Homo sapiens: one gene and its partners. The protein of the gene in region 2 purifies or fractionates together with the protein of the main gene of each other region. This does not show direct contact. Each region holds a gene or a part of one and is shown on either strand. Other genes may lie near its edges.

Evidence for each region.
Region 1: the proteins of PIGR (region 2) and ZNF202 purify together in Homo sapiens (affinity purification with mass spectrometry, with the first as the bait; one study listed by BioGRID). This does not show direct contact.
Region 3: the proteins of PIGR (region 2) and EPB41L3 purify together in Homo sapiens (affinity purification with mass spectrometry, with the first as the bait; one study listed by BioGRID). This does not show direct contact.
Region 4: the proteins of PIGR (region 2) and MYRFL purify together in Homo sapiens (affinity purification with mass spectrometry, with the first as the bait; one study listed by BioGRID). This does not show direct contact.
Region 5: the proteins of PIGR (region 2) and PCCA purify together in Homo sapiens (affinity purification with mass spectrometry, with the first as the bait; one study listed by BioGRID). This does not show direct contact.
Region 6: the proteins of PIGR (region 2) and PRSS58 purify together in Homo sapiens (affinity purification with mass spectrometry, with the first as the bait; one study listed by BioGRID). This does not show direct contact.
Region 7: the proteins of PIGR (region 2) and NBEA purify together in Homo sapiens (affinity purification with mass spectrometry, with the first as the bait; one study listed by BioGRID). This does not show direct contact.

Annotation. Positions count from the first base shown.
Region 1 is NC_000011.10:123,735,161-123,738,660, forward strand, and holds part of ZNF202 (zinc finger protein 202), read right to left. Parts: intron 1-3,500. UniProt on the Homo sapiens protein: Transcriptional repressor that binds to elements found predominantly in genes that participate in lipid metabolism.
Region 2 is NC_000001.11:206,939,967-206,943,466, reverse strand, and holds part of PIGR (polymeric immunoglobulin receptor precursor), read left to right. Parts: intron 1-2,882; 5' UTR 2,883-2,935; coding exon 2,936-2,978; intron 2,979-3,500.
Region 3 is NC_000018.10:5,414,998-5,418,497, reverse strand, and holds part of EPB41L3 (band 4.1-like protein 3), read left to right. Parts: intron 1-2,119; coding exon 2,120-2,680; intron 2,681-3,500. UniProt on the Homo sapiens protein: Tumor suppressor that inhibits cell proliferation and promotes apoptosis. Modulates the activity of protein arginine N-methyltransferases, including PRMT3 and PRMT5.
Region 4 is NC_000012.12:69,824,076-69,828,026, forward strand, and holds the start of MYRFL (myelin regulatory factor-like protein), read left to right. Parts: upstream 1-1,151; 5' UTR 1,152-1,442; coding exon 1,443-1,488; intron 1,489-3,951.
Region 5 is NC_000013.11:100,270,593-100,274,092, reverse strand, and holds part of PCCA (propionyl-CoA carboxylase alpha chain, mitochondrial isoform a precursor), read right to left. Parts: intron 898-3,500; coding exon 747-897; intron 1-746. UniProt on the Homo sapiens protein: This is one of the 2 subunits of the biotin-dependent propionyl-CoA carboxylase (PCC), a mitochondrial enzyme involved in the catabolism of odd chain fatty acids, branched-chain amino acids isoleucine, threonine, methionine, and valine and other metabolites.
Region 6 is NC_000007.14:142,255,259-142,259,536, reverse strand, and holds the start of PRSS58 (serine protease 58 precursor), read left to right. Parts: upstream 1-1,478; 5' UTR 1,479-1,546; intron 1,547-1,788; 5' UTR 1,789-1,829; coding exon 1,830-1,869; intron 1,870-3,863; coding exon 3,864-4,002; intron 4,003-4,225; coding exon 4,226-4,278.
Region 7 is NC_000013.11:35,193,770-35,197,269, reverse strand, and holds part of NBEA (neurobeachin), read right to left. Parts: intron 1,407-3,500; coding exon 968-1,406; intron 1-967. UniProt on the Homo sapiens protein: Binds to type II regulatory subunits of protein kinase A and anchors/targets them to the membrane. May anchor the kinase to cytoskeletal and/or organelle-associated proteins.

The DNA of each region.
Region 1 (3,500 bases), on a different chromosome or scaffold from region 2:
AGAATTAATACATAGGGTCTTTTGGCTTAATAAAAGGACTTCTAGTATCTTAAAAGTTTGAGAACCGACGTCCAGTGAAGTAGACTTGGAATCCTCATTGTTTTCACGCAGCACTAGGTACAAGAGATTCCACAGTATGGATCCTACAACGTATGCATTGACAGAAGAGTTCCTGCTCTCTCAAAGGGCTTTGCTCTCCAAAGAAAAAAGAACATGTAACAGTGCCACACCAAACTTGCCATTTAAAAATGCCCTTCAGAAATCACAAGCTGAGATTTCTGGTGCTTGTTTTGCATTTACTTTGGCAGCCTAGGAAGATGAAGGAAAACAGATCAGCAATAGAAGGAATGAAGGAAGGAGTCTTTGTGGGGTAAGAGATGGGAAATGAATAGGAGGTACAGCAGTGCTGTGCACAGCACCAAACTGGGTATCCAAAGACATATGCCCCGGCCCCAGATCCCCAAGAAACTGGAGCTTCCCTGAGGGTTTCGTGAAGTAACGTACCCAAGAGCCCTTGTAAAGGATAAAGCCCTCTGCAGATAACCAGTCTCCTAACTCAGTGATTATCTGAGATATGAGAGCTTTATGAACTAAAATGTGTTGTGCAAATGTCAAGATTTAATATTAGAGGCAGAAAACAGATGTTGTGTTTTTATTCTATAATTAATGGGATGTGCTATGCCATAAGTATACCTTGCAATTTGTTGCCTTTGCTATTCTAATACCTTTCTTCAATGTCTGTCCTTGGAAGAGTTCCAGAGTAAGACAAAAACTATAGAGAGAATACAATAGAGAGAATATGAAACCAGGCCAGGATTAAGTAAGAGACTTGGTTCCAGAAGACACTAAAACAGTATCTGCAAAGATACAACCTAGTGTCTTGAGTGTTCCTAGGATGCATAGGATTGGAGAGGAGCTATCAAGGTAAGACCTCTGTACAATCCTCAGGCCAGCTGTCTCTGCCCCTTATCTGAAGGTGTCACGTGGCAGTGAAGACCCAAGCTCAATTCTCTTACAAGAACAGAAAACCACAGGCAATGAAACAATATCTAGTTCTCTACCTTAAAACGCTACTAGCTAGGGTGATCTTTCTGGACCCTAAATGACAAAGTCTGTAGTCATATACCATCAACCTAAAGGAGAGACAGTGATCTGCCTATGTACTGGCAAATAATCTTCAGAAGAAAATAGTGATTAGAACTGAAATTATTATATTTAGCAGATATTTATATCCCTTCCAGTCCCCATTCTTATTTTATACCTTAATGCAGGCCTATAGTTTGGTAATTTTAATACAACTACTTGCTGGGGCTAACCAGGGCCTGTCAACAGCTCCTCTCAGTGTTCTAGAATAGAAATTGGCTAATAAAAACTGTTAACCGCTCTTTTCCAATGCTGCTGCTGTTCTTTAAAACGAAAGATTAGCCCAGTACAATCCTTCTAATGGACATATTCTTTTATTCTTGATTGTCCTATATACAAGCGCTTACCTAAGCTTTCCACATAATGGTTAGTGGCCTTGGCACGCTGGGTTTGAATCCCTGACCTCGAATCCCTGACCTCGCTTATTAGCCTTGTAACACAATTTCCCTAAGCCTCAGTCTTATCCTCAAAAATGTGGCTAATACTACTTATCTCATGTGGTTGTTTTAAGGAGTAAATGAAATAACCTATAGAAACCCTTCAGTATAGAGTCTGGCATAGGGTAGGTGCTCAATATATTTTATTCATTTTCCTTCAAGCTATTTGAAATCGTTTTGGGAAGAAGGCAAGATTTAAATGATAAACAAGCAAACAGTTCTCTATTGCATCATAATTACAAAAAAACAGATGGCATAAGGAAAATCTTGGTCGGTCTATTGTTATATCAAAGAAACCATGCTAAACCAAAAAAAAAATCCTTGCTTTGGAGGCACTTATGAAGTAGGATTAAATGAAAGTGTTGGAATACAGATGAGAAGGAACCTTAGACACAGGTTCTCCCACCGAAGACCATATCAGCAATGCTTCTAATTACCAATATATCAAAGTCCTCTCCACTCCCTGTAACTGGCAGGAGACAATCTGAGGCAAACTCAGTGTACCAAGAAGTCCTGTGAAAACTTAACCTAGACAGCACAATGAATGAAAGGGAATGAATTCCCTGGCTTTTGGCCTTCTAACACGTGACCAGTATGCTTCAAAACATGTTTAAAACTGTTTCTGTAAAATATTTTTGCCACCTAAGTTTCCCCCCCGCCCCTTCATAAAAGTGATATTTGAGTAGTGAGGGGAGAAATGGCTCAAAATTTGTTACAAGAGGTTCCAAAGAAAGACAATAAGGTATAGAGAAAGGGAAGACAGGAAGAAAGAGAAAGAGGTCAAGTATGTAGTGGATAGTACAGGGAAGTCACAAGTATCTTCTGTCTGGAAATGCTGCAGATTTTGTGGTTAGCCTCAAGATATTAGGTGGGAATAAACATGTCATTGAGAGTAAATGTAAACACAAAAATGAAAAATAAAAATTGTAACAATTCACTTTATTCTAAACTGTTTTTGATGGTTATATATGGCAGGCCTAGGAGGCAATGTTAGACAGTAGATAGTTGCCTTCGGCGGAGGGTGACCTGTGTTCTGTCCACTGCTCTACATTGTAAAGAGGTGTCATCTTGGACAAGTCACGGCAGCTCATGTTGAGTCTTGGGATGATTCTTTATCTAAAGGTAGAGAACTGAACCAGCTTTTTGATGGTGATGAGGAGGGGTTTTGAGAGGAACAAGGATATACAGCATCTCTATTGAATATTTGGGCCATAATGTAACAGCCTAGGATGCTGAGATTTACTCAAGAGCTGAGGACGGCTAGGGGCCAAACACAGATTTTTAAGTTTTGAGATAGGGTTTACTCTGTTGCTAAGACTGGAGTGCAGTGGCAAGATCACAACTCACTGCAATCTCTGCCTCCCAGGTTCAGGCCATCCTCCCACCCCAGCCTCCTAAGTATCTGGGACTACAGCACATGCCACCATGCCCAGCTAATGTTTAAATTTTTTATAGAGAAGGGGTCTTGCCATGTTGCCCAGGCTGGTCTCAAATACCTGGGCTCAAGTGATCTGCCAGCTTTGGCCTCCCAAAGTGTTAGGATTACAGGTGTGAGCCACTGCACCCAGCCTCAAATACAGATTTTTAAGAGGCCAGATTTATACACCTGGCCATCATGGTCATGTTGGTTAACCTCCATCATGAAGCTAGGCTTTTTAACCTTCAGGAAAACTACCCCAGAGCAGTTAATGGCCTAAATAAAGGAGGTCAAGCTATATGTCTCAGTTTAAAACAGAACATGACAAATTAACCTGAAGCAGGAAAAGGAGGGGACATCAAACCTGACACCCATCCTGATAAGAGTAACTGCTCTCATTTGACAGCCAGAGTTAAACTAGATGTATGCAATCTCTACAACAAACATAGTCAATGCCAATCAGATAGTCAGAGGAACCATCATTTAATGGGAAATAACGCAAT
Region 2 (3,500 bases):
CATCCTAGCCTCAGCAGTGAAAAAACAACTGCTAGTTTAAGGACCAGAAAACGTGCCCTCATGCATGATATAATATCATATATATAAAACCCAATAAAGCAGGTCCCTTTGCTCATTTAAAGAGTGATAATGGGGTAGTGACCTCAAATTAGGATTCTGCTGTGGGTCTTGGGGTCGAGAATCCCTATAACCCTTAGATTTCCAACCTGTGTCATGAGGATAACAACATCTATCTCTTGGGTTGTTGTGCTGATGGATGAAGTCTTACAAGAAAAGAACCTAGCAAAGCATTTGGCACGTAGCAGGTGCCCAACATTATGTTCTTTTTCTTCCTTCCTTAAGCAAATCCTTTAAATCCAGCCCCAGCCACCCTGGGCTGGGGAGGTCTCCCGAGATTTGAATCCCCAGGTTTGGAAGAAAGTCTCTGGTTTTGAGAGGAAGGGGTCTGTAATGATTCTGAAAGCTCGAGGTCCTTTCAAATGCTACTAGAGAAATTGTGCTTCAAGTTTTAGCTTTGGGCAAAGAAGAGCTCCTGTTCCTGAAAGCAGGGGTATCCTCTCCTGCCAATCATCCCATCTAGGACTGGACTGTGTGCATCCCGCTGATGTTGCCATCTGCCCGACCTGCCTGTGCATGCCTGATGCTCTCATCCCTGGCTTGAGACCATGCAGAGGGTAATGGGTGCACACACATGTCCCCTCTCTACACAAACATGCACAGCCACCCAAACATGTCACAAAATGAGAAGTCTGGGACAGAGGTCAGGGTGGTCTTCACCTTGGAGAAGCTGGCATCTGACTCTCTGCAACCCAGGCCAAGTCCAGAGGAGGGCTGCATCCCCCAGCTCAGCTTGTGGGAAGACCACTCCTGTCTCACGCAAATATGAGGCAGCTTGCTTATCTAGAGGTGAGGACAGGAACAAGAAGCAAGGACAGCTGCTGCTGGTGTGGGTTCTTAAAAGCAGGCAGCATTTTGTCCTCCCACCTGTGACTGCACCCACCCTGTGCCAGCACAAGTAGAAAATGGTAGATCTCCCAGGACTTTGCAGCCAGCCCATCCCAACTGTTTCTGAGACTTCCTGGCCTCCTGAAAGCTGCTCCCACCTGGGAGCATCTCCCATGGCAGCTTGCAGTGCCCACGCAGGTGATGACATCCCAGCTAGTGTCCCCTGATTGCTTCCATGTTGGAGCTGACTGGTATTTGGCCAAGGCCCCACTCCAGGCATTAATCATTGACCTGGTAAGAAAGGTCTGGGGCAATTAACCGGACTCAAGAGAGCCTCAACGTTGCCATCTGACACCCATATTTGTTCCCACTCCCTCCCTTTATTCTTCCAAAGAACTGCAGAAACAAAATACCTTTATATTCACAAGGAAATAAAAGGTTCCTTGCTGGGAAATTCCCCTGCAACAAAGAAATAACCAAGATAAACAACTCTATTGCCTTTGGCTCAAGCTGGTGAAGGGAGTCTGGGAGCAGGAGCAGGGGCCAGGGTGGTGAGGGAGGTCTGGGAGATAACGCCCAGCTTCCTCCTGCTTACAGCGTCCTTATCTTTATGGGCACTCATTACTGCCCAAACTTACGATCATTTAACACTCTCTTTGTCAAGACAACTCCAAAGTTTAAAGTCTGTCAAAGTCTGGGAAAGTGGAGACTTCTGTCTCCTCCTCTAGGCTGTAGTTGGGGTCTTGATGACAGCTGCTGTCAGGCAGACCCCTGGGACCCTCAACTCTCCTCAGCCCTGGGCTGTGTCCACGGTGGAGACAAAGTCCACACAGGCTGCTCCGTCTGAGTGGTCTCATCTTCGATTCTTCATCTTTGTCTGCCAGGCCTTACCAGGCAGGATTACAAAGACCCTAACACCTAAGCTTTTAACCCCAATTCCATAACCAAGTTGCTGGGAAAACGTAAGCCTATCATTCAGCATCTCAAGACCTCAATGTTTTATCCATAAAATGGTTGTGATTATACCCGTCTGTCTTATTTCAAGGGAACATATAAAGCTCAAATGAAATAATGTAAATGGTAGTGCTTTCATAAGCAACAGGGTCTCTACAAATAACACAAATAAGCATAAGGTAAAAGCATGCTCTTGTATTTGGGGTGCGATACAGTAGTGGAGAGGTTAAGCACATGGACTTTGCAGTCAGACAAAGGTGGGCCCAAATCTTCCCCGACCCCCATTCTGTGTACCCCCACACATTTAACCCCATGTGCCCTTGAGGAAAGTACTTAACCTTGAAGCCTTCATTTCCTCCCATGTGAATGTGGATAAGGATACTAACCTCACAGGGCTGATATCAAGTCTGTATGAGATAGTACACATAAATTATTCAACACAGTGCCTGAGACAGAATAAGGGAGCAATCAATGGGGTTAGGACCATCATCATTACATTTACAGCCTTAATAATCATGACACCTCCTCTGTGGGTCTCAGTTTCCTCATCTGAACACACTGTGAAATATGTCAGCCCGCTTCACCTCCCAGGAATGTAGGGAGGGCAGCTGAAACAGAGAGATGGGGGCCACGTATTGGTAGGAACCAATCACCCAGCAAGCCATTCCTGAGATCTTACGGTGTGCCTGGGACTGTGTCTCATGGGCAGGGAAACAGAGCAAATGACACAATATCTCTATCCCAAAGGAGCTTGCAGCTTAGTTGAGAAGACAAAAGCTACTTCTAGCTATTAAGGATATACAAGTGTTGAAGGATGATAAGACTTTGAATTGTTATGGAAAAAGTGGAGGCACTGATTCATTCAACAGGATTTATGTCAGTTGCTGGAGATACAAAGCCAAATAGATGTCACAGAAACTCTAAGGTCAACTAGTCTTGGAAGACAAGGGGCGCTTCATCTCCTTGTGATTATTGTTTTTCAGCATTGCACAGGAGAAGTCGGCCTGAGTGGTGCGGCGCTCGGGACCCACCAGCAATGCTGCTCTTCGTGCTCACCTGCCTGCTGGCGGTCTTCCCAGGTGTGTCTGCCAGGCCCCAACTCTCCAAGCTCCACCCCTTCAGCCTGCCCGACTCCAGGGTTCACCTCCCTGGGGACACTAAAATCAGACTCATCCCCAGGGATGTCCCTCTCAAAGTTGGCACTTCCTTGAGGAAGAGTCATACAGAGAAGACACTGAAAGGCCACATCTGTGAGCATTGGAAGTCAGGGACAGGAATGGCACTTCCTAATCTCAAGGCCAGGGGTCTGTGAAAGATCTTCTTTGAGAATAACAAAGACCTTAACTTCAACCAAGCATCTCTATGACCCGCTGTGAAATCTGAGGGAAGTCACTTATCCTTTCTGGCTCTCAATATTTTTATCTGGGGGAAAAAAAAGAAAAGAAAATCATCTACAAAGTGCTTTTAGAAATATAAGGAAATAACACATGGCAAGTGCAAACATGTAACACCTTACGAAAGTGGTGTTATTGTTTGAAAAAACAATGGATGGCTGGATGCTGGCTCACAGCTGTAATGCCAGCACTTTGGGAGGCCAAGGA
Region 3 (3,500 bases), on a different chromosome or scaffold from region 2:
AACAAATATGTGGTTCTTCTTCTTAGTTATTCTAACATTTTATAAACTCGCCATGCCAACATAAGATTCCCATGGATGTATAAGTATTGAAGAAGTGACACATCAATGTAAGTGATTTTTAGTTTTGCTCCCAAGATAAGGCCGGACATTTTCACTTTATTTGCTTTTAAAAGACCACCAGTTTGTTTATATAAAACGTAGCACTAAGCTGTCCTCACTTGGTGCCATTTGTGATGTGGGAAAAGACAAAGGACACTACCAGCCTCATAGCCTGAGTCTCTGAGAAGCCAGCACTCTGGGCAGAATGTCTTCAGGAAGTCTGTAGCTGAAATCTGGTGCTCATATAGGTGTGGGCTGGCTTGGTTTCCCCAGTGCAAAGCTGTCTTCTAGAAATGACTTTAATAATCAGCATGGAAGGTTAAACCTTAATTTTATCCTTCTCCTTCTTCAAAAAGTAACGCAGAGGGTACTTACTTTTCAACCAAAATGAAAGTGTATTACTGAAAATAGTTCTTGAAAGGCTGGTCCCCTAGGTTGCCTGGGAAGGAGGCACGTTTCCCAGGCTGGGATCCCCTGGGTCATGGGGCTGCCTCACCTCCATGCTGGAGGACAGTTGTCTTCATGCAGAAGTTAATGTGTAGCAGCTACATTATTCTTAGTTGAATGAGATTTGTGCAGGTTCCTGTTTAAAGTGCCGTCTTTAATGTCAAATGCAAATGTGTGGGAAAAGACATACTTCTCTCATCGTAAAAAGAGACCCTTCAAAGGCCGAAGAGCTACGATTTTATTTGTGCATTTTCTTTCCCTCATGCCTCAGATGTAACTTTATTTGTGCATTTTCTTTCTGTCGCTATATTTACCACTTCTCCCCAAGTCAGGATTGCATAACCACACAAGGCAGGCTGGGTAATTTCCATGCTGTCAGGCCACTGGGCAAAACACACACATACACACACGCAGTGACACAGACATCAGCAGAAGTCTAATTACTTTCAGGCTTGGATTTCCCGGCCTGCAGCAGCTGCTGTACCTGCCCAGGTCCTGCTTGGGGCTTGCGTGCTTTCCTTCCTCCCCTTCTTGTCCAGCAACCCCTCCGCCACCTGCAGAGGAAACTGGCCCTGGTCGTGGAGACTTCCAGGACCCAGAGAGGAGGAGAAGCAGATTCACTTGCCCCATAAAAGCTTGAGCTCACCAGGGGAGCACCTGTGGAAAACCCTGCTTTTATCATTATATTAAGGACTCAAACCAAAGATCTAAATATGCCCTTTATCTGCTAAGAAAAATCAGAAGGCTGGGAAATTATATCTTTCTGTTATTATGCATCATAAATAATAGAAAGTAAATACTGGCAAAGCATGTTACAAGAAAACACATTGTTTTTGCTAGTTAGCTTGTTGAAATCACTTCAGTTGAAGTTCCACTAATATCCTAAATAAAGGAGCCAAAATAGAGCTTTCAAGGGAACTTCAGTTCTTTTCTGAGGAGTGAGATATTCAGAAATGCTAACTGTCGAATCCCTGATTGTAACTACTTATCAGATAGGAGTGGGGCCAGAAACTTCTTGATTTGGAATGTAAACTCCTTGTTTTGGATGTAATTGAATAACCAGGGAAAGGACTAATGCTAGAGATTGGTTTTTTTTTTTTAATCAAAATCTGGATTGGATTTCATCTTCATTTTTAATCTAGCTGAACTATAGTAACAGCTCTGCTACCTGGAAATCAGGAGAAGGCTATTGAAAGTCTTCATGTTAAGTTATCAGATTTACTTATGTTTGCTCCCCAAAACCTGAAACTTTCTAGAGTTGTTAGTCTAAAGGGAAATTTTTTGACCATGTGAAATGTGTAGACTTTGGGATTGCCCACAAATACCTTCTGTTCTGAGTTTTTAAAGAATTCCACCTGTATGTGATAGTCTCATGGGAGAAATGTAGCCGTTCGTGGCAACAGTGGCATGCAGCTTGAATACTTTAACATTCATGAGCAACCCTAGTGCTAAAATTTTTGTTTTACAATTTTATATTGATACCCATAAGAAAATTAACTAATTGCAGTTTTCTTTTTGTCCTTTTGCACCTCTGTTTGCTGCTTTCTGTCTCTTTCTGTCTCTTTCACATCAGTCACCTGGGCTTGGCACTGACTCATGTCCCTTGTCACCCCCATCCACCCATTGTGCCCCCACATCTCCCACAGAGCTCCGTAGGAGGTGTAAGGAGAATGACTGCAAACTGCCAGGTTATGAGCCGTCCAGAGCTGAGCACCTGCCTGGAGAGCCCGCCTTGGACTCTGATGGCCCAGGGAGGCCTTACCTAGGGGATCAAGATGTGGCTTTTAGCTACAGACAGCAAACTGGCAAGGGGACCACCCTGTTCTCCTTCTCCTTGCAGCTCCCTGAGTCATTCCCCTCCCTCCTAGATGATGATGGATACCTCTCTTTCCCCAACCTTTCTGAAACCAACCTCCTGCCCCAGAGCTTGCAGCATTACCTCCCGATCCGCTCACCGTCCCTTGTGCCCTGTTTCCTCTTCATCTTTTTCTTTCTGCTGTCTGCCTCCTTCTCAGTGCCATACGCTCTCACTCTCTCCTTCCCTCTGGCTCTGTGCCTCTGCTACCTGGAGCCCAAGGCGGCCTCCTTGAGCGCCTCCCTAGACAATGACCCGAGTGACAGTTCAGAGGAAGAGGTGTGTACCTCGGCATAGAACACGCTTCCCCTTCGTGTTCCGTGCTTGAGTCCGAAACAGTGTTAGCTGGCTGCTGCCATAGTGGTCCTACTTTCAGAGCCTCATTTATTGTCTGTGCCAATATGTTGAGGTTTCTGTGTGTTGGGGAGTCCAACCTGGGCCCCAGGGTTAGGCACAACACCATGTGGATGTAGCAGTCTGAGCCCAACCCGGAATCGTTCTGCTACCCACTGAGTTCTACGTGGGATGAAAGACTCAGCCAGAAGTCAATTTTATATAACCCGTCAGCTGTGTAAAAGATCAGGGCTAAGCTAAAGGTTCTGATCAGTTATGGTTTAATAAGGTAAATCACATATAAGACAGATGATGAGTAGTTTTCAACTTAAATGACAGTCAAGGAGAGGTGGAAGAGTGCATCCCCGGAGGGGATGTATCATCATCACCTGGGTAGCTTTCTAAAGTTGCAAAGGTATCTCCTCCCTGGAGATCCTGAAATGTCCCCACCACCCTCTGCTCATCATTGCCAGACAGTCATTGTTACTCACAGAGAGGTCAGTCAATCAGATCCCGCATTGTATTGTGTCAGAGCAGTTTAAAGCACCCACATGACATCAGCCATTGGTAAGGGCAGAAACAAGCCCAGAAGCAACGGCATGCAGTGCAGCAGTGTTCAGACACAATCAGAAAAGGACTAAATTGAAGTTTTCAAACAATGTAAAGGCAGGCTGAAATTTCACCATGCTAGCAATGCCAATGCAGATAATATGACAGCGATTCTTTCAACTGCAGTATGAGTCTCAAAATCCCCCCATTTTCACAG
Region 4 (3,951 bases), on a different chromosome or scaffold from region 2:
TTAGGGGGTGAGGGGATAAAGAGGGGTTGGGTAATGGGTGCAAAAATATATAGAAGGAATATGATCTAGTGTTTGGTAGCACAATAGGGTAAATACAGTTAACAATAATTTATATTTCACAATAAAGGAGTGGATTTGGAATGTTCCCAACATAAATGATAAATGATAAATGTTTGAGGTGATGGATACCCCAATTACCCTGATTTGATCATTACACATTGTATGTTTGTATCAAAATATATGTACCCCATAAATATGTACAACTATTGTGTATCCATAAAAATTAGAAATAAACTATATATATAAAAACTATATGGATATATATATAAACAAACTATATATGGATATATATATATCCATATCCTTCCACACACATATCCATATCCACACACATATCCATATCCACTGCTACCACTCTGTCTCATATATATATGTATATATGTATATATATATGTATATATATGTATGTGTATATATATATATATATGAGAGAGTGTCAATAATTGGTAAGTGTAGATGAAGAGTATATGGATATTTTATGATACTATTTTTTTTCCAAATAGTTGGGAAAAAAGAAAAGGAAGGGGCGAAAGGATAATTTAATTTCCTAATTGTATTTTCTTAGGCTATTGTTAAATGAATTATAGCTAAGCAGTGAAAACAAAACATTTATTCGGGTATGGTTTTATATTTAGGAGTGAATCAAGTTACTAGTGACTCAACTGTAAGAATTATTAAATTGGTAATGCAGTTTTCGTTGCTTGTTAGAGAGACTTCTCATACTTTATGGTTTATGCTTTGGAAGCAAATAAGCTCTAGAGGAAATGGAACAGGTATGTATTAAGGAATTTAAGTTTTTGCTGTAAGTTTGGAAATACTTAACAAATTCTAACTTTTCATTATCACAAGCCTTTTAAAATTACCTGTGATGATAGGTATCTATAAAAGTAATTATATTGATTTATCCCTTTTTTCTAGGTTAAAAAAATAAGTATGTTTTATTGGTGGTAGCTAAGTGGATCTAGTTGATAAAGGTGGAGATATAAATATATTGGTGTAAAAGGACAAATATGAGATAAGACTATGTATTTATTGCCCATTTATGTAATTGCATGTGTCACTAAGGACAAAGGTCCTTAAAGACGAAAAGCAGAGTAGAAACAGTTCCTTATATTAAGACAGATGAATTTGCTACCTCTTCCCTCTTCATGAATTTTTTTTAAATGTATGGTTGTATATCCTTCCAGTTTTATAATCACATTTGAAAACTCAACCATCTTTCTGGGCACAATTTGATGGCTGAAGATATGCTTCACTCCAATAAAAAGAAAATGAAGATTTTTCAAGAGCATTCGTAGGCTTCGAATCAAAAGGACAGTACTTATTTCCTGAGGTCTGATAACCGTTGTTTTATGAGGAAATAGTACTAGGATCACAGTACCATGGATGTGGTAGGCGAAAATGAGGCCCTGCAGCAGTTCTTTGAAGGTAAGAGGCCAATTTCCAGCATGAATTTGCTGCTTCTGAGAAATGCTCACTATCCCTGTTTCACCTTTTCCGTATTCACTTAAACTTTGTTTTGAAAGAAATGCTATCATACTTAGGTAACTCTCCTAATATCAAAAGTAGGGGTTTATTTGCTACATTGGGAGCAAAATTCAATGGTATGGATAGAGATTTTAAACAAAACAGGATTTTCATCTTATAGTTTGGTTGTTAGAATCAAGGGGTCAGCATATTTATGTTGTTATTACTTGTCCCTGTCCTGTACTAGATTTTATTTTTTCCCATGCCCTATGTTTAAAAAAACTACATAGCCATGCTCAAATTCCATGTGAAGGGAAACGTGACCATCATTTTTACACGGTAAGGTATTTTGCATGAGGGAGTATGAGAAGAAGTGAGGGAAGACCTGCTCATTTACAGAATCTAGGGATCAGTCAGCAGCACATCGAGAAAAGTGCTTTAGGTATTTCTTGTGCTTTGTAAAGTGCCTGACAAATAATATATATTTAAAAGTTGAATGGAATGGGCTGAATAGTAAACAATGCTGAACACTAAAGAGTGACGGGGCGTACCAAAGAAATAGTGAGATTCTATGTCACTATTGGGAGGAATCAACACCATGGGGTAGTTTCTGTGGCTTGGGTTTTTCCAGAAATGGCAAGAAGAAACATAAGACCAAGAGAATTATCACATTATCTTGTCCTACCATCCATCCCATTGAGTGTTCTGTCTCTGACAGTGGCCAAGTTGGTATTGTCTACCTGGGTCATGCTTGGCACATGGTAGGCACACTAGTGTTGCTAGACTGTTATTGCCTGATTTTATATCATATATAATTTTCGTTTGAGCAGCAGGTGGCAAGCTTCAATCTACCATTGCATCTATTTTAGAGAAACCAGCAATTTATTGTATACATGCAAAAATCTACTCCATTTCCTTCTAGAGCTAGGGAAGACCTGAATATCGAATTTGGTCTACCTTCTGTTTTTTGAAAGAGCTTTTATTTCTATGGGATCCCTATACTGTCCTTGTTTATACTATTTTTGGAGGTTTCTATGGATATAGTTTCTACAAGTCCCCTCTACAGCTTGTTACAATTATCTGATCATTATTATAAAAGTATTTGTCTTCAGTGTTTTTCTTACATTATCTGTGAATAGTTGGAAAAGGTGGTAGACTTCACAAATTAAAATGAAGGCACTAGCTTAAGTGAGTCCCATCCCCCTGAAAATCACACAGCTAATTGTCAATTTTTTCTTACCTCTACTATTCAGCAAATATTGAGCGCCTACTCTGAGTCAGGTTCAACAACCACTTTCTTTAAATGGTAGCTTGTAGGGCTTTGGATGCCTTCTCTTACATTTTAATAATTTCCTTTCTCTTGACCCTTTTCAAATGAAGGCAGCTGAACTGAAGCTGATATTCTTGATCTGCAGTCCAGTGCTCTACCTCTGAGCTATACCCTCTCCTTGAATCTGATATTCTAATGAGAAGAACCAGTTGTTTCATGTCATGCTCCTATTGATATGTTAACTGTTTCTAATCAAACACCATCTCATATATAAAAAATTCAGGGTTTGAAAATCAAGAAAAAAATTTGACAATTTGTTACCCACCTGAAAGCTATTTTCTCCATTTCCTCAGGCTCTTCATTCTAAGAAACTAAGCCCTAAATAATATATGTTTTCCTTATAAACATTTTTATATTAAAAATTATCTTGAATTAAATGGCCTTGACTGTCAAAGCTCATGATGATCTTAGTTTTTTTTTTTAAACTTCCAAACGTGACTAAATCTTCATGGTGTCTCAGGAAAATGACAAGGGTGGTTGTTCTGGGTAGCTGATAATTCTGGTTCTAATTCAAATCCCTGTCTGCCACTGATGCAATAGGTAGGCTTGTGAGCTAAAGCAGAAGAGGCGCAATCAGGCACTCTAGAGATCGCAACATCCTCTGGAAACTCAGACGCCATGTGAGATGTTTGGTTTTTTCAGCAAAATGGTACCACTTCAAAAAAAAGGTTGTCATAAGACGGGTGCATTGTTTTATTTATAATAACTAAAAATTGGTTACAACCTAAATTTCTAATAGTGGTGGATTTATTAATTATGGTTCTAACATATAATGGAATATTTTATGGCTATTAAAAATGATGACAAGGAAAAATGTTTATGATCTTAAGCAAAAAAGTGACTTACAATGTGGAATATATAAACACAATTAGATATATATAGATAACTTTCTATAGCAAAGTTTATTAAAACTGGGTTGAAAACAGTTAATATATTTCCATTCATGCACACACAAATACATAGAAAAAACCATATGAATATACTTTAAGCATTAATAGTAACTACCTTGGAGTGATAGGATTATGAAGATTTTTATTTTCTTTATACTTTATTATCTAAGTGCTTTATAATTTGAATATATAATGTTATAATCA
Region 5 (3,500 bases), on a different chromosome or scaffold from region 2:
AGAAGAAAATGAGGCTAGTGTAAAAAGAGCTGGCTGTTTTGTAAATACTTCTAGGCCCAGTTGATGTTTACATTGATTTTTGCTTTATAATAATACATTCAATTATTCACCTGTGTTCTATGTATGTTTCTGTATAGTTCACAATTTAAATGAAAGAAAAAAGGGAAGAAGGAAGGAAATAAAGCCACCGGTTACAACGCCAGTCGCTTCCTGAGATTTGGTTAGAACTAAGGAAGTTATGTCCCCCAAAGCCAACAGTTCCAAGGGCAGCCACTTGATTCTCAACGTCCTCACTGTGGCAGAGGTGCCGGTTCCTCTGGGAGCCTGGCTGAGTGGTACAGCAGTGGGAGTCACCACCGAAGTTCACTCTGGGTACCCTTCCTTCCTCCATCCTTCCAAAGATTTTGCAATCACTGTATCACTTCCTATTTGTAATATCTAGAGTAATTTTTCTTAACAGCACATACACACTGACAAATACAGTTCATCTAGAAAGGTTCAAGAAAAAAACAAAGTGGTATTTCCAACATAAAGTATTAACAGTGACAAAGCAGAGGTCTAGACATTGAACTTTAGAGGGATACTATCCGTCATTCCTAACAGATGTCTTAGCACAAGCATAAAAACTAAATCTTTATTTAACACTTTATGGAGTTAATTTTTTAACATTTATAAAACAAAAAAGGGTGGAGAAGGAAGGGTAAAGTACAGAGGCATGGAGAGGAATAAATAACAGTTGTTGTTACCTGGAGTCTTGTATTCATTTCCAAGAAATAAAAATTCTTCTTAGAGTCCACAAGGAACTCCACGGTCCCAGCAGAGGAATATTTTACTGCTCTGGCAAGAGCTACAGCTTGTTCTCCCATCGCTCTTCGAGTCTCCGCATCCAAAAAAATGCTACATATACAAAAAAATGTTTGTCTACATTTCGGACAAAAATCAAGTTATCTTTTGTGTGCATTACATAAACATTTTCTTAAAGTTTACTCAGATATAGATCATCTATACCAATTTAAGAATTCAAAATATTGTGCTTTATATATGTTTTATAATATATGTTGACTATATTATTAAGCATAACATGCTCAAATAAGTCAACTTTAGATTTGTATAAAACATTTGAACTTTTCACATTACTCTGCAACTTCAATCCATTCACAAAATATATAACTACTCTTCAACTTCTAATATTTAACATATATATTCAGAATTGCTTCGAGCCAAAAACTGGGAGAAAAATAACTTATTAGTATCTAACATACACAATCAATCCTCATTGCTCATGTAGTCCATATTTACAAATCTGCCTACTTGCTGAAATTTATTTGTAACCCCAAAATCAATACTTAAGGCGCTTTCATGGTCCTTTGTGAACAAGTGCAGAGAGGTGAAAAATTTGAGACTCCAGTATGCTAAGGCTGAACAAGGTGATGCTCTCCCTTCTCGTTTCAATGCTCATACTATAACAAGCATCCTTTTCAAGGTCTGTTTAGTGTCACTTTTTTTGCATTTGTGTGTGTGTGTGTGTCATTTCATGGTGTGAAATGGCCCATCAAGCATTGTCCTTAGGTGCTGTCTGGGGTTCCCATGTGCAAGAAGGCCATGAAGTACTGTCTGGAGAAAATGTGTGTGGGATAAGCTTTACTCAGGCACGTGTTATAGTCTTGTTGGCCAGGATTGTGAGTTCACTGTTAATGAATCAACCACAGATATTAAATGAGAAATACACAAAAAACAAAATTATGTATTAATCCACTGAGGAAAATGTTATAAGCAAAGGCTCGCAGGAACCTAACCCTGTATTTCCCCTAGGGGAAATTATTCAGTGTTCACTAATTCAGTAATCAAGGTGACTTTAGAGAACATAACTGCCACAAATAACAAGAATCAGCAATACATCCACTAAATCCTGCACGTTTGGCTTCAAGATACCAAACCCACCTTCAAGCAGGCAAGTTAAGCTAAAATGACTTCAACAAACCCTGAAAAAAATATCATCAAACCACTTTGCATTTTCACAGATTTTGCTTCTATGAAAGAAAGGCTCTGAGAAACAAAACATTAACTACTTTTCTACTTGTGGATTAAAATTATTCTCAAATGAGCAGGATTGAGATGACATGCTATAAAAGCTTTATTATGGAATAGTATAAAAAACTTGCATGAAGCTGCCTCCAATATATAGCAATTATTAATACATAGCCACTCTGGCTTTATCTATGCTACTTGCCCACTTCTCTACCAGGCCCACCCTTTATTGTTTTTAAAGTAAATCCCAAATTAGGTATCATTTCACTTTTAAAAACATACATGTCTGTTTCTATGAGATAAAGTACCCTTTTGTAACACAACTACACAAAAAACAAGAACTCCTTAAAAGCATTTAATATCCACTTGGTATTCAAATTTCTCTATCTCATAAATATCTTTATACAGCTGATTTCTTTGAATCAGGATCCAAATAAGGTCCAAAACTGCATTTGATTGGCTTTTGTATCTTAAGACTCTTTTAATCTGTAATGCCCCTTCCCCATTTTCTGGCCAAGGATCTGGTCATTTTACTGTCTTATTTCTCACATTCTTGGTTCAACTGCATGCAACCCCACGGTGTCTTTTAACATTCATATTACATTTCTATTTCATATAGATTGCTAGTTAGACTCAGAGCCTTGAATATATTCAAGTTGGATTGGGGTGGGGGAGGGGGAAGAGTTCACAGGTGGGAAGTGTACTTCCTACTGTCTCCCTTTTGGTGAAGTTACAATAAATCAATGGGTTCAAGTGTTATGAATTATCTATAATATAGTTTGCATTAACCTAATGTATAGACATAGATGACATTTCAACAATAACTGGCTGACAAAATTAATGCAACTAAAAAAAACCCCAACTAACAATTAATAGCATAACATCTGGAGAATCTCAGTGCAGCTCTGTGAAACTATCTTTCTCCTATTTGATCTTGCCCTTGCCCTTTTCAAAAGCCCTGCTAGATATCCAGAGATATGAGTGACCCTAGCTAGCATTGCCCTCAAAGCACATTAGTAGATTCTTTTTTTTATTTTTATTTTTCGGGGGGTGGGGGAGAACAGGGTCTTGCTCTGTCACCCAGGCTGGAATCTGGTGGCATGATGTCGGCTCACTGCAACCTCGACCTCTGGGGTTAAGCAATCCTCCCACTTCAGCCTCCCAAGTAGCTGGAACTATAGGCATATGCCACCACAGTCAGCTGATTTTTTACTTTTTTGTGAAGATGAGGTCCCACTACGTTGTCCAGGCTGGTCTCAAACTCTTAGGCTCAAGCAATCCTCCCACCTCAGCCTCCCAAAGTGCTAAGATTACAGGTGTGAGCCACCATGCCCAGCCGATTCTTACTCCAGGAACTGAAAACTACACATTCCATTTATTTTAACATTTCACAGTGTACAAATACATATCAGGTCAGTATTAATGATGAGTTCTAGCTTTTTCATTTTGATTCCTACTGCTGTATATTTTCC
Region 6 (4,278 bases), on a different chromosome or scaffold from region 2:
TTATATGGTATATAATCTTTTCAGACTAGCTCTTTTCACTTAGCAATATGCATATAGGTTTACTCCATGTCTTTTCATGGCTTGAGAGTTAAGTTTTTTAAATCATAAAATCTCTGAATAACATTTCATTATATGGATGAATCACACTTTGTTTATCCATTTATCTATTGAAGGACATGTTGGTTGCTTCCAAGATTTGGCAACTTTGAACAAAGCTGCTATAAACATTTATGTGTAGGATTTTTGTGAACACAAGTTTTCAAATCTTTTGGTGTATCAAGAAGTGTAATTGCTGTATCATATAGTGAGGTTATGTTGAGCTTAATAAGAAACTTCCAAGCTATTTTCTAAAGTGACTGTACCATTTTGCACTCTCATCAGCAATAAATTCTCACCAGCATCAGTTCTTGATACTTCATATCCTCACTAGCATCTGTTGTTGTCAGTGTTTGAATTTTAGCCCTTCCACAGGGTATGTAGTAGTATCCCATTGTTGTTGTAATTCCCTAATGACATATTATGTTAAGAATTTTTTCATATGCCATTTACCATCTGTATATATTCTCTGGTGTTATCTTCCCCATCACTGCAAAATATATCTGTTTGAAGGCCTAAACCTCAATGCAACTGTATTGAAGATAGGGCCTAAAAGGAAGCAATTAAGGCTAAATTAGGTTAGAAGGGTGGAGCCCTGATCCAATAGGATTTATGTCCTTATAAAAAGAGTCACCAGAGAGCTTTCTTTCCCTCTTTATCTCTGTGTGCACAGAGGAAAGGCCATGTGAGGAAGCAGTAAGAAGGTGATCATCCACAAGCCAGGGAGAGAGGCCTCACCAGAAACTGAATTTGACAACACCTTGATCATGGACTTCTGACCTTCAGAACTATAAGAAAGTAAGTGTCTGTCGTGTAAGACACCTAGACTGTGGTTTTTTTTATGGCAGTCCAAGCAGACTAAAACATTTGGTAAGGATCTTTGGCCCACTTTTAGGTTGTGTTGTTTGTTTTCTTAATGTCGAATTTTACTATTTCCTTATACATGAATTATTTAGCAGATATGTGTTTTGCAAATATTTTTATCTAGTCTGTGGCATATCTCAATTTTTAGCCCTGAATACTTTGTTTCATAACCATCAACTTAAGTATCATTCCCACTAGTCTGTAAGCTCTTGGAAGGTAGGAAAGAAATCCTTCAGTTGAGGCAACCCCAACAGCAAGCACAGATCCTAGCACAAGTTAGATACATAAGATAAATAATTAGCAGGTTGGTTCACAGAATAAATGGATAAACAGTGACATGAAGGAAAAGGTTAATGTATTTCAAAGAGGAGTTTAATGTCAGGCAGAGGAAGCAATGTCAGCTCCAGAGGGCTACATTATGTCCACTGGAGAAAAATAGCATCACACAGTGGGAGATAGCATCACACAGACAGGAGGGGCAGCAGCCCACACATAGTTTAGAGGGGAACCTGCCTACCAAGGCTGGCAAAAAGGAGACCAGACAGGAGGCGTCTGTAGAGATATCATGAACTTCAACTTAGCTTTGGTACTTTCTTCCCTGAAGACAGAGGGCAGAACTCTGAGTTCCAGAACCATTTTCAACTGTATTGGGGACCAATCACTTGACTCTATTCTTGTCTCTCTGACAGATGACGCTACACTCTCCTCTGAATAATGGACACCATTTCTAAAACTGAATCCTGCTACTAAAATAATTCAGATGATATATTTTTCCAATTCTACAATCTTGCTTTGTTTTATTTAGTTGTTTTCTCTCTCTCTTCCCAGTTTTCCAGAGACTGGAGCTAAACTGGGCTTTCAACATCATCATGAAGTTTATCCTCCTCTGGGCTCTCTTGAATCTGACTGGTGAGTGTGTGCATATTTGTCTCTTTACCCACCAAAGAGAAATCCTGGGAAAAGCATGAAAGACGGGTAACAGCGAGAGGCATCATTCCAGAATTCAAGTGTAGGATGGTCCTCTGTCCCTCTCCACTGCCCCGTTCCCATCAAGTTTCCTCCTGTGATAGTGCCTGCCTGCCTGCCGCAGGAGGTTTGCTTGTGTGCTTTTGTGGGAGGCGTGGACATTGTCACTCAAATACCAGACCCACTCCTAAGACCTGACTCTGGACCTGTCTGCAACAGGATTGATGTTCTGCACCACAGAGGGCACAGCAGAACATTGAAGAATCAGATATCTCCTGGCACAGTTCCAGTTACTCAGGCATAAACCCAGGCTTATTCATAAATCCTCTCTTTCTCTCATACCCCACGTTTGATCTCTTAGAAAAATGTTGGCTTTGTCTTCTAAATGTATCCTAAATTCAATCACATCTCACCATCTCCACTGCTCACAATGATCTAAGCCACCACCTCTTGCCTGGATTAGCAAATTATTCTCCTAACAGACCCCTCTACCTCTATACTTCTACACTCTACAGGTTCTCCATGAGGAGACTGTCATCACTCCTTTGCACAAATCCTTGAGTGGTTCCATTTGTACTCAGGAAACAAGGCCGAGTTCTTACGATGGTCTACAAAACCCTCCATTCTTCTTTGAGCCCCTTTCCTCCTCTGCTCCCCTTCATTCACTCTGGGTCAGCAGCCATGGCCTCTGTGATGTAACTGACACAAGCCTCAGGACCCATGCTGCAGCTGTTGCCTCTGCCTGGAGTCCCTTCACCCAGATATTTGACTAGCAACTTCCCCCGTTTTCATGTTATTGTTCAACATTGCCCATGAAGTTATACTCTGATGACTGGTTTAATATTACCTGAGACTGGAGTAATGGCTCATGCCTATAATCCCAGCACTTTGGGAAGCTGAGGTGGGAGGATCACTTGAGCCCAAGAGTTTGAGACCAGCCTGGGCAACATATCAAGACTCCATCTCTATTAAAAAAATTAAAAAATTTAAAAATTAACCAGATATGGTGGCACACACCTGTAGTCCAAGCTACTCAGGAGGGTTTGCTTGAGCCCAGGAGGTTGAGGCTGCAGTGAGCCTGATCTTGCCACTGCACTCCAATCTGAGCAACAGAGTGAGATCCTGTCTCAAACAAACAACAAACAAATACTGCCTGAAACCCCTCCTTCTCCCCCAACACACAATTGGTAATACCTTTCTCTCTTTCCCTGTCCTACTTTTATTTCCATAGCACTAATCACCATTTAACATCATATATAGTTTACTTGTGTGTTTTTCCATAGCACTAATCACCATTTAACATCCTACATAGTTTATTTGTGTGTTGTGTTTATTATTACTGAATATCTTCATTAATTGTAATATATGAGAGCAGGAATATCTACTTTGTTCACTATATAGCCCAAGCCCCTAAAACAGAGCTTGACATATACTAGGTGCTCAATGTATATTTGGTAAAACAATACATTATTTTTCCCCTCCTCAGACTCTTAGCATTTGGTCTGTTCTTGTCATGATACTTATATAATTCTGTCTTGAGTTGTTGTTGGGAAAAAGAGATAAGACTTATTAAAGCATTCTAAATCAGAATGCCTTAAGACTTATTGAAGCATTCTAAAATTGGTAAAAATAGTGAAAAAAATTCGTTGATTTAGCATACAACCCACTAAATTGTGGAAGGTATTTAAGAAAGTTGAACATTTAATTTGAAAGATTTTATTGACAGTGAAAAAGCCAAACACTTTTTATTTTTCAAAAGAGATATGTTTCTACCATTTGTCTTTTCTTCGTGTTTTAGAACAAAGTAAGTCATTTTACAGATAAAGTTGCTAGAGAAAAGGATAGGGGAACTTGGAGCCTATTAAATGACTTTCCTGAAGTTTTTCTGGTGATGACTGAGAAATCTTGGAATTTCTTGTCTATGCTTCTCTTTCCAGTTGCTTTGGCCTTTAATCCAGATTACACAGTCAGCTCCACTCCCCCTTACTTGGTCTATTTGAAATCTGACTACTTGCCCTGCGCTGGAGTCCTGATCCACCCGCTTTGGGTGATCACAGCTGCACACTGCAATTTACCGTGAGTGATAAGCCTTCAAAGGCACTCCATTCTTTGGGTTCTCAGGTTGGGCACAGACTCTCACCCCTGTCTGAGACCATCTCCCAATTAAATGGGATTAGAAAAGCCTTTGGGAGACATACGAGGGTACAGAAAAAGGTCTGTGGGGAGGGATAATAGAGGCTCATAATGATGGAGAAGCCATCTCTGTTAAGTCCTCTCATAAACGTCTATATTGTTCCAGAAAGCTTCGGGTGATATTGGGGGTTACAATCCCAGCAGACTCTAATGAAAAGC
Region 7 (3,500 bases), on a different chromosome or scaffold from region 2:
AGATGTTTTAAAACATCAATAACAATGATTTACTTTAAAAGGTAAGCCATCACATTTTTCAGTTAATACATTAACACGCAAACATTATTTGGAATAGGCATTAACCCCAGTGATCAATGTTAAGTACTACTGTTAGTAATTAGTGACTAAAATATTCTTCTAATCTTGCACATGTTTTTAAATAGTGGAAGATATTAGATGACTAGGGTATTAGGTTCTAAAATATCTTATTCTGCTTCTGTGAACTATCATTTTTATTGAATGTATACTGGAATAAAAAGTTAATTGTTCCTTAAAAAAATTCCTTGCATGATTTAACATTTGAATGTAGATATATGACATATGGGCCATGTTATAAATAGTTTCGATACCTAAAATGCCAAAATACCTTTCAAAAATATTTACTTTTAAATACATGCTTCAAAATACAGCTTTTACATTGGTATTGGAAATCTCATAAAGAAGATGACCACAAACAATTTTAAAATTTTTCCATATACTTCCATTTAAGGTTCAAATTTAAATATTATCACTTAAAGCATGTCATATAATCTCCAACAATTATTATAGTATTTTATAATATTATAATGGAATTTCAGAGCCAGGATAAACCTTGGACAGATGTGACCCATCCCCTTCCCCATTATGTACATGAAACGACTAAGTCCAAAGAGAAAAATAACACCCCGATGTACTGTAGTCCTTTGATAATGGAATATAACCATAATCCATGTTTCCCTACTTCCAATTCAATGTGCTATCCATCATATCACATTGAAACCTCTTCTTTAAGATGTATTATTAAGATGTCTTATTATAAGATTAGGTTGAGCCATCATTTTGATTGTCTTTGTAATAAGAATCTACGTTAATAAAGTTTTCAAGATCTTCCTTATATTTTAAAATTAACAAAGTCTAATTTTCCTTTTATGTATAAAGCCCTGTGAATAATAAGTTCAGTACCTACCTGTCAAAGGAATGAAACTGCATAGGAAGAATAGCTTGTGTTTCTCTCTTCAATGCTGGATCTGGGTATGGGATAGGTTCAGGGCCACATTCTGCTATTTCAACTGGAGCAGCCACAAGACTTTTCAGTATTTCCTTCACATTGATGCCTTTGGTTTGACTAATGCTAGATATGGATGTTGCAGGCTTCAACGTTTCACTAGGATTTTCAGTTAAGCTCTCTTGTGATTTCTTCACTTCGGATGACAAAGTGGATAAGAGTTCACTCATGGCATCAGGGCCTGTACTTGTTTCTAATTCTGCCCCATTCAGGATGCTAGCCACTTGCTCCTCTCCAATTCCTGAATCTGTATGGGGAATTGAACTTTCTACCTGAATATCTTCACCAGGAGTTGGTGTTTCTTTTTCTTTTATGGTGTCTGGAAATGCAGCAGGTGTTTCTGTAATGAAAGAAACTAGGTTAGAAAAAAGCTTTGAAAGTAAAAATCTTGTATTATTAATCAAATGTTTTCATATATTCAAATAAAGAAAACAAAACCTGTAGAAACAAAAAATTGCTAAACGGATGTGCATAGTAGTAACACAACTCAGTTGAAAGATATCATCCAGCCAGACATGATGGCTCATGCCTGTAACCCCAGCACTTTGGGAGGCTGAGGCAGATGGATCACCTGAGGTCAGGAGTTCGAGACCAGCCTGGCCAACATGGCGAAACCCCGTCTCTACTAAAAACACAAAAATAAGCTAGGCACGGTGGGATACGTCTAATCCCAGCTACTCGGGAGGCTGAGGCAGGAGAATTGCTTGAACCTGGAAGGTGGATGTTGCAGTGAACTGAAATCATGCCACTGCACTCCTGCCTGGGCAACAAGAGCAAAACTCCATCTCAAAAAAACAAAAAAAAAAACAAAAAGATATCATCCAATACACCTACTATTTTGTTCAGGGAGCATCAAAATAATCCTCTTGCTTCTTAAATCATCTGGCATTTCAAAACTGATGCCTTCAAAAGCATCAGGAAATAGTTCCTATAACAATTTCCTAAAGCAGCTTATAAATAATAATTATATGATGTTCCCCTCTTATCCTTTGATTGTTAGCTGCCAATCATAGAAGAGAAATTCTTATATTTCTCTATTAGTTTCCTTAAAAATATAAAGTCATTTTTATACTTTCTTTGGTACTTCAATAACTAATAATATCTGAAATATTCAAGATAATCGAAGATCATTTTAAAATTACAATACGTAAAATTCTGACACACTTGCAAAATGCAAAGCAAGTCAAATGATTAGTTCAAAAGAATAAATACATTAATAATATAATAATGTTCCTCAAGGACAAGGCCTATATTTTGGAATACTCATGCTCATTCTTTGTAAATAAATATAAATTTCAATTTGTGAAAATTAAATCAGAAACATATATGTGCATATAACTACACAGATAATGAAATACACATATAATATTAACAACTAAAAGTAATGAAATAAAAAAATCTTTAAAATGTTAAATTTCTATCAAATTTCATCATACAAAGGTTAATGTAATAAAGTTCTCCATATAATAAAATGTTACCAAATTCTAAACGATAACCTTGAAAAGTGTATCTCATCTAAGTATAATGGAGATAACAGTCCTTAACTTAATCGTTTTGAATAAAGTAAGATACCATTAAGCTACTATATGTAAATTCACTGCAGTTCTCACTTTAAAGTAGAAGCTCAGTAAATGTTAGCTATTTGTATTGCTTAAACTTGCATTTAAGTTTGAAAGTTTCATAATCTTTGAAAATGAGAAGCACAGACTAAATTATTTCAAAGATCTCCTAAAAATTGAAAATCAGTAAATTCTATATAACTTCTCTTAGATTTTGTTATTATTTGCTTGTTTCTTTGAATTCAAAGGTTGTTAGGACAAGAAACCAGGAAACTGCCCAACAGGAAAATAGGCTACCTTGATGTCAGCAAGACATCTCACAAAATCTTTTGTGAAATCTCTAGTAGAAGTGTTGTTCTGATGATAGAATTGTTGGGTGTGATCACAGCTTCTGAAAGTTTTGTACACACATACTAAAAAATTAAAAACAATATGAAGGGATTTTGTCAGTAACAGACTCAATTCTTGGGTGTTGTCTATTAGACAGTTTTTTTAATTGCTTGAATTTAAACTAATGGCATACCATTCAGATTTCCTGAGGGTGTGAATTTATAATACTTTTTCTAGGATAAGCATCAGAAAAATGTTGCCAGGTTTTGAAATAAAATCTCCCATTTTTTTCTCCCCCTTTTCTTTTGAGTCAAATTATATCAAATCTATACATTAAATTAGGAATAAATAACATCCTCATATTATTCAATATTCCTAATATCAAATACTAATTTAAACTGACTTAAAATATGCATTTATCACAATGCAATGTTATATCATAGTTTTCCTCATATTTGTTGAATAGATTTAAATTTTGTTTGTTTATTTGTTAGTTTGGTCAAAGATGATAGACTGAAAGAATAGATTAATCTGTGGAATATGAT